2 separate regions of the Homo sapiens genome follow, and region 2 is linked to region 1. A link means that fine-mapping ties the variant in region 1 to the expression of a gene that starts in the linked region. Tissue or cell type: whole blood. Region 1 holds a variant in brackets; the other region holds the start of a gene. All regions are shown on one strand. Distances are between the middles of the regions.

Region 1 (5,830 bases):
AAAAGGCTGAGATGGGAAGACTGCTTGAGCCGGGAAGGTTGAGAGAGAGCACTCTGGACAACATAGCAAGACCCCATCTCATTCAAAAAATAAATAACTATAGTATAACTGGCACCGTAATTTAAAATACTAAAAAACTGGCCAGGCACAGTGATGCATGCCTGTGGTCCCAGCTACTTGGGAGGCTGAGGCAGGAGGATCTCTTGAGGCCAGGAGTTCAAGGCTGCTGTGAGCTATGATAGTGCCACTATACTCCAGCTTGGGTGACAGGGTGAGGCTCTATCTCAAAATAAAACAAAGAAAAAACTAACTAAAACACTATTTTTAAAAATTAAGTTAAAAACCGGGGGGGGGGGGAGTACTCATAATCCCTTAATTCAACCCAAAGTTAATAAAAAGTGCTGCCAGAAATCTTTTTAGGTCCGTGACCATGGGCTCTCTTCAGCTATTGTTCAGTGACAAGAGCAATATCATCACCAACTAAACTAGAGAAGGTAAAGAAAGGGAGTGACTATAAAAACAGCTATCTAAAGAGAAACAAAAAAGCAAACCAGAAGGAGTCCTAGGAAAAAGAAAAAAAAAAAAAGAAGAGAGAAAGGAGGAACAACAACAACAAAAAACCAAAGTGAGAAACATTTTTTTAAATTGTATTTCCAATCATCTACTAAACAAAACATACTACAGAAAAATACTTCCAAGCTTACACTGTAAGGGGTTGCTTCCACTTGGGACTGTTTGTGTTGTTGCATTTTTCTGTCTTCTTTGACTGTCCATCTACTGTGACCTCTACGTAAGGACTTGGTCCAAACCAATTCTTCTTATTTTCCTTAAGTTTTGCTGAGATGACTATGTAAAAGAAATGAAAAACATTTCAATAGTTGAGATGTTAATTCACTCATGAAATCAATTTAACTTCATAATTAGGCAGATTTACTAAATTTACTCAGAGAAGCAGTTTTGCTCTAAAATACTTACCAATTTTATTCACTCATAACCTTTGTACTTCCTCCCATCCTAGTAAATAAATATAGAGGTTCCCCGTACCATCAACCCAAATTCCCATCAGTAGAATTCCATGGTATCAAAAGTCCAGAACTCAGATCAATTAAAAAGTACACATATGGGCCAGGTGCAGCGGGTTACACCTCTAATCCCAGAACTTTGGGAGGCTGAGGCAAGAGGATTGCCTAAGCTCAGTAGTCGAAGACCAATCTGGAAAACATAGCGAGACCTCATCTCGCCTAAAAATCAAAAAAATTAGCTGGGCACAGTGGCGTGTGCCAGTCCCAGCTACCTGGGAGGCTGAGGTAGGAGAATCGCTTGAGTCCAGGAGGTCAAGGCTTCAGTGAGCTATGGTTGTGCAACAGCTTGGGCAACAGGAGGAAAAATTTAAAAAGTACACATATGGCTGGGCAGGGTGGCTTGCACCCGTAATCTCAGCTACTCAGGTGGCTGAGGCAGGAGGACTGCTTGAGCCTAGGTGTTTAAGACCTGCCTGGGCAGCACAGCGAGACCATATCTCAAAACAAAATGTATGCATTGACAAACATGGTCAACAAACATCTGAATGCCTACCATGTGTCAGATACTGCTCTAAACTCTGTCCCTAAAGCAATTAACAGTAAAGAAAAGGATCTGGCTTTCAAGGAGATTATATTCTAATTAAAGTATTTATGATGAAAAACAGGCTGATGTGACAGAAAATGACTTGGTAGTAAGGAAGGCCTTTGAGAAGACTTTTAAGCAACCATCCAAATGACAAGGAGCCAGCCATGGGAAGACTGGAGGTGGGAATAAGACAGCATTCCAGAGAGAGGCAAATGAGTATGGCATATCTGAGGGAAAGTATAGCAAGCACAGGAAGGAATGGTAAATGAAGGGAGATAAGCTTTGTATGGGAGCTTTATAAACCAAGATAAAGAATCTGCAGCTGGGCGCAGCGGCTCACATCTGTAATCCCAGCACTTTGGGAGACTGAGGCGGGTGGATCACCTGAGGTCATGAGTTTAAGACCAGCCTGGCCAACATGGCGAAACCTCGTCTCTACTAAAAAATTTCAAAACTTAGCCAGGTGTGGTGGCAGGCGCCTGTAATCCCAGCTACTCAGGAGGCTGAGGCAGGAGAATTGCTTGAACCCGGGAGGTGGAGGTTGCAGTGAGCCGAGATTATGCCACTGCACTCCAGCCTGGGCGACAGAGTGAGCCTACGTATCAAAAATAATAATAATAATGATAATTTAGATTTTATTCTGTGTGTTGGAAAGCCAATGGAAGAATAAGAACTACAAACTAAGATTTTTTTTTTAACATCTCATATTATCTAAGGAAGAGCTTCCTATGTTGTGCATCTTGAGATACAAACTCCTTAGCCTTCACCTTTTAGTTACCTTTGCCATAAAATAGCTTTGTCCAGGCCCCTTACAGGGTATAACAAGTAGAAATCTAGCAAAGCACCCCATGATTTCCATAGGTGGCAAGTCATTGCTCCCTCATAGATGAGGTAACTACAACCAAGGAAGTACCCACCACCCAGGTTATCTACTCCACCACCCAGGTTATCTACTGTAGCAGCAAAGTTCAGAGAATGCTAATGCTCATCAAAGTTAAGGAACCCTTGGAGTTGTCAGAGGAGTTTATATAGTAACTACTTAAGAAGCTTAATATAGCCGGGTGCGGTGGCTCACGCCTGTAATCCCAGCACTTTGGGAGACTGAGACGGGCGGATCACGAGGTCAGGAGATCGAGACCATCCTGGCTAACATGGTGAAACCCTGTCTCTACTAAAAATACAAAAAATTAGCCGGGCGTGGTGGCGAGCGCCTGTAGTCCCAGCTACTCGGGAGGCTGAGGCAGGAGAATGGTGTGAACCTGGGAGGCGGAGATTGCAGTGAGCCGCGATTGCGCCACTGCACTCCAGCCTGGGTGACAGAGCAAGACTCCATCTCGAAAAAAAAAAAAAAAAGAAG[C/A]AGCAGCTTAATATATAGTCCAAAGTCTGGATATCTAAGCAGGCATAGTCCCAGGTGGTGGCCCTGAAACTCTGACTTTACATATATCAAATACTTCCATCCTTTTAGGCTTATGTGCCTTTTTGCTGGCATTCAAGCTAGCCACAGAATGACTGACTGAAGAAAAAGAAGAGTTGCAAGAGAAGGCTAGACAAATAGACAAGATCAAGCATGGTGGTTCACACTTGTAATCCCAGCACTTTGGGAGGCTGAGGCAGGAAGATCACTTGAGGCCCAGGAGTTTGAACAAAGCCTGGTCAACATAGTGAGACCCCCGTCTCTACAAAAGATAATTTTAAAAATTAGCCAGGCATGATGGCGTGCACCTGTAGTCCCAGCTGCTGGGGGGAGGCTGAGGCAGGAGGATCGCTTAAGCCTGGGAGGTCAAGGCTGCAGTGAGCTGTGATTGCACCACTGCAATCCAGCCTGGGCAACAGAGCAAAACTGTCTTTTAAAAAAAAAAAAAAATTGTTTCAGATGCCAGATGCTGAGACATCTAAGTGGAAACATGAAATAGAAAGTCTTTTTCAGAATAAAAAATATTCAAGTGGGGACCAGAGCTATCTCTGATTAAAATGTAATAGGCCGGGCACGTAATACCAGCACTTTGGGAGACCCAGGCGGGAGGATCACTTGAGCCCAGGAGTTTAAGACCAGCCTGGACAACACAGTGAGACCTCATCTCTATTAAAAAATAAAAAATAAAAAAAAAGTACTATTAAATCAAAGCTCTAGTGCTTAATATAGAGCCAAATTTAATCACAGGATTACACAGAAAAACATAAAATTTCTACTTTTAATACATTTCTGGTCTAAGAAAAGGTGAAATAGCCCAAACAATTATACATACACTCATTATATTTCAGGGCCTCTTGTGGCACTCTGAAACTGATTAAACCTAGAACAAAGAGCAACGCAAGGCTGACAGGAAGGAAATGATCTGCCCCTGTTGGGGCTTTCTAGGATTCAAACTTTTTTTTTTTTTTGAGATAGGAGTTTCGCTCTTGTTGCCCAGGCTAGAGTGCAATGGCACAATCTTAGCTCATTGCAACCTCCGCCTGCCGGGTTCAAGCGATTCTCCTGCCTCAGCCTCCCAAGCAGCTGGGGTTATAGGCACGCGCCGCCACACCCAGCTAATGTTTGTATTTTTAGTAGAAACGGGGTTTCACCATGTTGGTCAGGCTGGTGTCAAACTCCTGACCTCAGGTGATCCACTTGCCTCGGCCCCTCAAAGTGTTGGAATTACAGGCGTGAGCCACTGTGCCCAGCTGGATTCAAATTTGTGAAAGCAATTTTGCTACATAATCCTACCAAACCCCACTGAAACCTTTTTTTTTTTTTTTTTTTTTTTGAGACAGGGTCTGGTTCTGTCACCCAGGCTGGAGAATAGTGGCACAATCTCAGGTCACTGCAACCACCTCTACCTCCTGGGCTCAAGCCATCCTCCCATCTCAGCCTCCCAAGTGGCTGGGACTACAGGTGCGTGCCACCACATCCAGGAAATTTTTGTATTTTTTTTCTGGTAGAGACAAGCTTTTGACATGTTGCCCAAGTTGGTCTTGTACTCCTGGGCTCAAGAGATCCACTTACCTAGGCCTACCAAAGTGGTGGAATTACAGGCATGAGCCACCAGGCCTGGCCTAACAAACTTTACATGGGGGTGGAGGAGCACCAATTTTAGTATTTACCATGTGCCTGCACGTAAATGTCATTTCAATATCAATACCTATTCTGCGAAACAGGTATTACTGTCCTAATTTTTACACATAAAAAGAGAAGCGGCCGAACGTGGTGGCTCACACCTGTAATCCCAGCACTTTGGAAGTCTCAGTCAAAAGGATCAACGGGGGTCAGGAGCCAGCTTGACAAACATGGTGAAACCCTGTCTCTACTAAAAATACAAAAATTAGCCAGACATGGTGGCAGGCGCCTGTAATCCCAGCTACTCAGGAGGCTGAGGCAGGAGAATCACTGCAACCCGGGAGGCAGAGGTTGTAGTGAGCTGAGATCATGCCATTGCACTCCAGCCTGGGTGACAAGGGTGAAACTCCATCTCAAAAAAAAAAAAAAAAAAAAAGACAGAAGCTCTGTGAAATTTAAAAATTTGCCCAAGGGTCACACTGCAAAACCTGGACAGGAGAAATTATTTCAGTATTCAAATCTCAAAGTCTAGATTGAACAAAACCTTGTGTTATAGTCATAATATTACAAATATAAAATAAATCAATGTACTACTTTCTGAAAACTAAAGTCCCACAGTAAATTAAACAAAAAAATAAAAAACTATACATTATAAACCGGAAGAAAAAGGACCAGAAAAATGTCAGTCTCATCTGACACCTGGGCTACTATGAGAGGCCTCTAAACAACTGTTTTTACTCTCACTTCTCCAATCCAACCCCTCACAGCCACCAGAATTATTTTCCTAGAATAGATGTGATCATGTCATTAATGTCATTACTTAAATGATTCTTTATTGCCTGAAAAATGAAGTTTAAACTCTTATGGGGCATTTTACCTTGCTTAGTATGCAGCTATAACTTACCCTTCCAGCCTCCTACTAAAACAAATCTTACCAAAGTTCTATATTCTAGCCACCCTTAGTTATTTGCTGTTCCTCACATGGGCCATGTACTTTCATTCCTCTAAACATGCTGCTCCCTCTACTGAGAATGATCCTTTTTTCTTTTATACCCATTAAAATTATATTTCCTGAGAGATAAACATCCCCCTTCTCTTTGATTAAAGGCTTCTTTAATCCTAAGAAGTTAAATTATTTCCACCTCCATGCTTCCAGAGTATTTCCATATTTACGTATGGCTCCGT
Region 2 (5,830 bases), 43 kb after region 1:
ACCAGACTGGGCAACGTAAAGAGAACCTTTCTCTACAAAAAAATTTTAAAAATTAGCCAGGCATGCTAATGCATGCCTGTTGTCCCAGCTACTCAGGGAGGCTGGGGTGGGAAGATCACTTGAGCTCTGGAGGTCCTGTCACTGCACTCCATCCTGCGTGACTGGGTGAGACCCAGTCTCAACAACAAAAAATCACTTTTCATATACTTGCTTCCTTTAACCTTTCTGACCTTGCGTTTCAAAATGCTCTCCTTCCCCATTCCACTCCACACTCCCTGAACCCTTTTTGTTCCATAATCCTCTGAATTTACACACAGCATTAAGGCATTCACTCAGCCTACCCTGTCCTTCTCTTTCCCCGCCCTTTTCACACTCCTACTCTTCATGTAAGACCCAATGTGGGTTCAGGGGCAAATCTTGCCTCTTCTAACCAATCCTCCACCCAGCCACACACACAGAATTGGCCACTTCCTCTTTCGTCTCAAAGCTTTTTGACCTTTCCTTGGTAAGTCTACAGTACCATTTGCCCTCAGTGGTTCCCAAGACCATCAGAATTACCTAAGGCATGTGTTAAAAATAAATTGGTTGAAGCCAACCCAGACCTACTAAATCCATCTCAGAAGGTAAGACCCTGGAATTTCTAAGCTCTCCTAATTATTCTAATGGTCAAATTTGGGGACTACTGGTTTGTCTGCCTCTCCCAATAAGTGAAAAGATGTATTTTTTAGGGCCAGGAGTGGCGGCTCATGCCTGTAAACCCAGCACTTTGGGAGGCCAAGGCAGGTGGATCACGAGGTCAGGAGTTCGAGAGCAGCCTAGCCAATATGGTGAAAACCCATCTCTACTAAAAAATACAAAAAAATTACCGGGAGTGGTGGCACGCGCCTGTAGTCCCAGCTACTACGGAGGCTGAGGCAGAAGAATTGCTGGAACCCGGGAGGCGGAGGTTACAGTAAGCCGAGATCACACCACTGTACTCCAGCCTGGGTGACAAAGTTAGATTCCGTCTCAAACAAACGAAAAAGATGTATTTTTTTCTAAAGAATGTAGAAATGTTTGATTCTAGAATACACTGAAGAAGTAGTCTGTACTCATTTTTTTAATTTCATATGATATCCTTGGTGACTTGACCTGTATGCTGAATGTAATGGAATTCCTTTTGGACTCACAAAACTTAAATTCACAGTTCAAAGAAGCAGTAGAATTTCCACCTTCATTTCTAAATTTTTTTTTTTATTTTTTGAGACAGGGTCTCACTCTGTCACCCAGGCTGGAATGCAGTGGCAACGGTAACAGCTCACCGCAGCCTCGACCCCCCGGAATCAGGTGATTCCCCCACCTCAGCCTCCTGAGTATCTGGGACCACAGGCGCCTGCCACCACACCCGGCAAATCTTTGTATTTTTTGTAGAGACGGGGTTTCACGATGTTGCCCAGGCTGATCTCCAATTCCTGGGCTCACGTAATCCGCCCACCTCGGCCTCCCAAATTGCTGGGATTACAGGCGTGAGCCACCACACCCATCCCATTGCTTTTTTTTTTTTTTTTTTTTTGAGGCGGAGTCTCGCTCTGTCGCCCAGGCTGGAGTGCAGCAGCGAGATCTCGGCTCACTGCAGCCTCCACCTCCCGGGTTCAAGCCATTCTCCTGCCTCAGCCTCCCTAGTAGCTGGGACTACAGGCGCGCGCCACCACGCCCAGGATTTTTTTTTTTTTTTTTTTGTATTTTTAGTAGAGACGGGGTTTCACCATGTTGGTCAGGATGGTCTCGAACTCCTGACCTCATGATCTGCCCGCCTCGGCCTCCCAAAGTGCTAGGATTACAGGCGTGAGCCACACACAGCACCCGGCCCATTTCTTAATTTTAAAAATAAATCGTAGCTTAAATAAACCTGTAAATACACATAGCAAGCTCTCAGCAGATCTGCCATGAGAACTTCACCTCAACTGATAAACCATTCCTTAGCCGATTTTGAGAATGGAAATACACTGCCTTTACATACTTCCTGAAGATCGAATTCTATCAGGAAAAGATGCAGGAGAACCCACCTAAGTGGGTGGCTGGCTCCAGGGTCTTACTAATTTTCAAGGCAAAAATCCCACAATTCCCCATCCCCCACTCCAAACCAAGTATACTGTAGCTGTGGAAGAATGGCAGAAAATGTAATAAGATTAGGATACGAATACAACCAAGAAAACAAGGTTGCGTTGTTATTGGGGATAATGAATTCCTGGCCCTTTACAAGTTCACCTGGTTACATGTCCAACTAACTTTAGGCCCAGCGTCTACTTCGGGCGCACAAATTCTGCGATTCTCTTTTCTGTCGCGGACGGGAACTGTCTTGGAAAACTTGAGTTCTCCACTTAAAAGTCATGTCATCATGCTTCGACCCTTAGAATACGTTCAACGGCTACTTTTTTCTTTTCTCTGCTAAAGAAAAGGGCACTCTCCGGAGGAAGGGCAGTGACAGCTCCACGTCTGCAAAAGTCGGCGCCGCCACGACGGTGGCGGACGTCGGGGAGGGCGCCGGAGCCGGGACCACCACGCCGGGGGGACAATGGAAGGAGGAGGCGAGTGGGAGAGAGAAGGGGAGGCAGCCGCTGTGCTGGGCCCTTCTAGCGACTGGGGGCTCGGAAAAGTCTCGAGAAGGCCAGCTGGGTGGCGGGGGACCCGGCCGCCGCCCCTCACAGGGCCACGTCGCCCGCGCCGGCCCCGCCGCCGGGCCCCGCGCGTAGGCCGAACCGCTGGAGAGTGGCCCCAGGCGGGGCTGAGGGGCGAGGGGCCGGACGGTACCCACGCCCGTCGTGGCCCAGCCCTTTCACAACTTGGAGCCCGCGAGGCGAAGGCCTCCGGAAGCCTGTGCCAGACACTGATCCCTCCGAACGTCCAGACAGCCCACCCCCACCGCCCGGCCCGGGCCAGTAGCCCGAGCTCCCCGCGCCCCCGACAGACACCGGCTCTGGAAGAAGGAGCAGCCGCGGCTCTGGGGTCCCGAACCGCGCGTCCCACTCCTCTACCCTTGTTCTCCCCGAACATTCTCATCCGGACTCCCTCCCTCTCCCGAGAACTGCCCCGAGTTCGCCCACGGGGGTTTACCGGGACTCGGGGCGGCGGCGACTCCTCAGTCCCTAGACTAAGATGGCAGCCGGTCCCGAGCCCCGACCACAGCTACTAGAGCGAGTTAGCAGCTAAAGCGCAGGCGCCTGAGCGCGGAAGTGGTCTAGACTACAAGCCCCAGCAGGCCTTGCGCGCCAGCCGTCCGGCCCGCCCCTGGCTTGAAGAGCTGGCTGCGGTGGTAAATCAGTTAAATCCCAGTTTTCCTCAGCTCCAGGTGAGATGGGCGCGAGCGGCTCCCAGCACCTCCAGGCTTTTTTTTTTTTTTAACACCCCGCCCACCAGAGCCTATAAGGACTGTGATTCTCAAACTATGGTGTGCATCAGAATCACCTAGAGAGCTTATTAAAACTTACACTGCTGACCCCCACCCCCAGAGTTTCTGATCAGAAGATCTGGCATAGGAGGATAGGGTCTGATAATTTGCATGTCCAACAAGCTGTCTAGTGATACTGCTAGTGAGTGAAATCATAATTTGAGAACCAATGGGCTATATAGCTTAGTTTATAACTTAGTTGTTCTTTTTTCTTTTTCTTTTCCTTTTCTTTTTTTTTCTTCTTTTTGAGATAAGGTCTCACCCTTCACCCAGGCTGGAGTGCAGTGGTGCAGTCATAGCTCACTACAGCCTCACACTCCTGGGCTCAAGCGAGCCTCCCACCTGGGCTTCCTGAGTAGCTGGGACAGCAGTTGAGCACCACCACACCCGACTAATTTTGTTCTATTCTTTGTAGAGATGGGGATGGGGTGGAGTGCGGATGGGATGGGGCGGGAATAGGGCCACGGTGTCGCCATGTTGCCCAGGCTGGTCTCCAGCTCCTGGGCTCAAGCGATACTCCCTCCTCGGGCCTCCCAATCGCTGAGATTACAGATGTGAGCCACTGCACCTGGCCTGGCTTAGCCTTTAACAATGTACATTAAAGGGCGTGGTTAAAAAGAAAATAAAAGAAAAAAAATGTACACTTGAGAGTTACACTGACCGGATTCAAATCCTCCCTTTTCTACCTTTTAACTGGGTGCCCTTAGGGATGATGACAACAGCTTAGTGGAGCCAACGTGGCCTGTCCGGTATTCTAAGAGCTGATACCAAGCTCCCTTTATTCTCACAACAAACCTATTACAGAAATACCATTATTATCCCCATTTTACAAATATATAAACTAAGTCACATACTTGATAAGAACCCAGGCAGTCTGGCGTGAAAGTCCGTTGTCTTAACCTTCTTCATGGATTGCTTGTGAGAAATAATAGGCTATGCAGGCAGAGACTCAGAGGTATGACTAAGTGCTCAATACTTAGTGACCTTTGCTATTACTGTTTAGCCTGTTTCCTCCTAATGAAAATAGTATTTTGCCATCTGGAAAGTCACATTTTTCAAAGTGACTTTTTTTTTTTTTTTTTTTTTGAGACAGAGTCTTGCTCTGTCACCCAACCTGGAGTGCAGCGGTGCAATCATAGCTCACTGCAGCCAACCTCCTGGGCTCAAGTGATCCTCTCACCTCAGCTTCCTGAGTAGCTGGGACTCCAGGCTCAAGCCACCACACTATCCTAATTGTTTTTATTTTTGTAGAGACGTGGACTCCCTGTGTTGCCCAGGCTGTTCTCAGACTCCTAGGCTTGGCTAGGGTCAGTGGCTTACACCTGTAATCCCAGGAGTTAGGGAGGCCAAGGCAGGCAAATCACTTGAGGTCAGGAGTTTGAGACCAGTCTGGCCAACATGGTGAAACCCCGTCTCTTTTTTTTTTTTTTTTTTTTTTTGAGACAGAGTATTGCTCTGTCGCCCAGGCTGGAGTGCAGTGGCGCAATCTTGGCTCACTGCAACCTCCGCTCGCCTCCTGGGTTCAAGTGATTCTCCTGTCTCAGCCTCCTAAGTAGCTGGGACTACAAGCGCATGCCATCACGCCTGGCTAATTTTTGTATTTTTAGTAGAGTTGGGTGAGCCACCACGCCTAGCCTTGTGAAACCCCTTCCCTACTAAAAACACAAAAATTAGCCAGGTGTGGTGGCGGGTGCCTGTAATCCCAGCTACTTGGGAGGCTGAAGCACGATAATTGATTGAACCCAGGAGGGGGAGGTTGCAGTGACCCAAGATCACGCCATTGCACTCCAGCCTGGGCGACTCAGCGAGACTCTGTCTCAAAAAACAAACAACAAAAGAAACATAAAGGCTGGGCGCAGTAGCTCACTCCTATAATCCCAGCACTTCGGGAGGCTGAGGCGGGTGGATCACCTGAGGTCAGGAGTTTGAGACCAGCCTGGCCAACATGGTGAAATCTTGTCTCTACTAAAAATGCAAAAATTTGTTGGGCATGGTTTGGGAGGCCGAGGCGGATGGATCAACTGAGGTCAGGAGTTCAAGACCAGCCTGGCTAACATGGTGAAACCCCATCTCTACTAAAAATGCAAAAATTAGACCGGGCACGGTGGCTCACGCCTATAATCCCAGCACTTTGGGAGGCCAAGGCGGGCGGATCACGAGATCAGGAGTTCAAGACCAGCCTGGCTATCATGGTGAAACCCTATCTCTACTAAAAATACAAAAATTAGCCGGGCGTGGTGGCGGGTGCCTGTAATCCCAGCTAGTCAGGAGGCTGAGGCAGAGAATTGCTTGGACCTGGGAGGCGGAGGTTGCAGTGAGCCAAGATCGTGCTACTGCACTCCATCCTGGGCCACAGAGCGAGAATCTGTCTCAAAAAAAAAAATGCAAAAATTAGTTGGGCAT

Evidence for each region. PIP is the estimated chance that this variant, and not a neighbour inherited with it, causes the effect.
Region 2: ITCH starts here. The variant in region 1 is fine-mapped to the expression of ITCH in whole blood (TOPMed, PIP above 0.99).

What each region holds. Positions count from the first base shown.
Region 1 is chr20:34,403,667-34,409,496 of GRCh38, reverse strand. ITCH (itchy E3 ubiquitin protein ligase) reads right to left here. Exons shown (of 25, transcript NM_031483.7): 4 at 705-846. Among named protein-coding and RNA genes, the nearest start is that of ITCH, 43 kb to the right of the region's middle. The variant C/A (reference allele first, on the strand shown) is at 2,966.
Region 2 is chr20:34,360,613-34,366,442 of GRCh38, reverse strand. ITCH (itchy E3 ubiquitin protein ligase) reads right to left here and starts at 3,170. Exons shown (of 25, transcript NM_031483.7): 1 at 3,094-3,170. RefSeq lists a silencer at 2,636-2,865.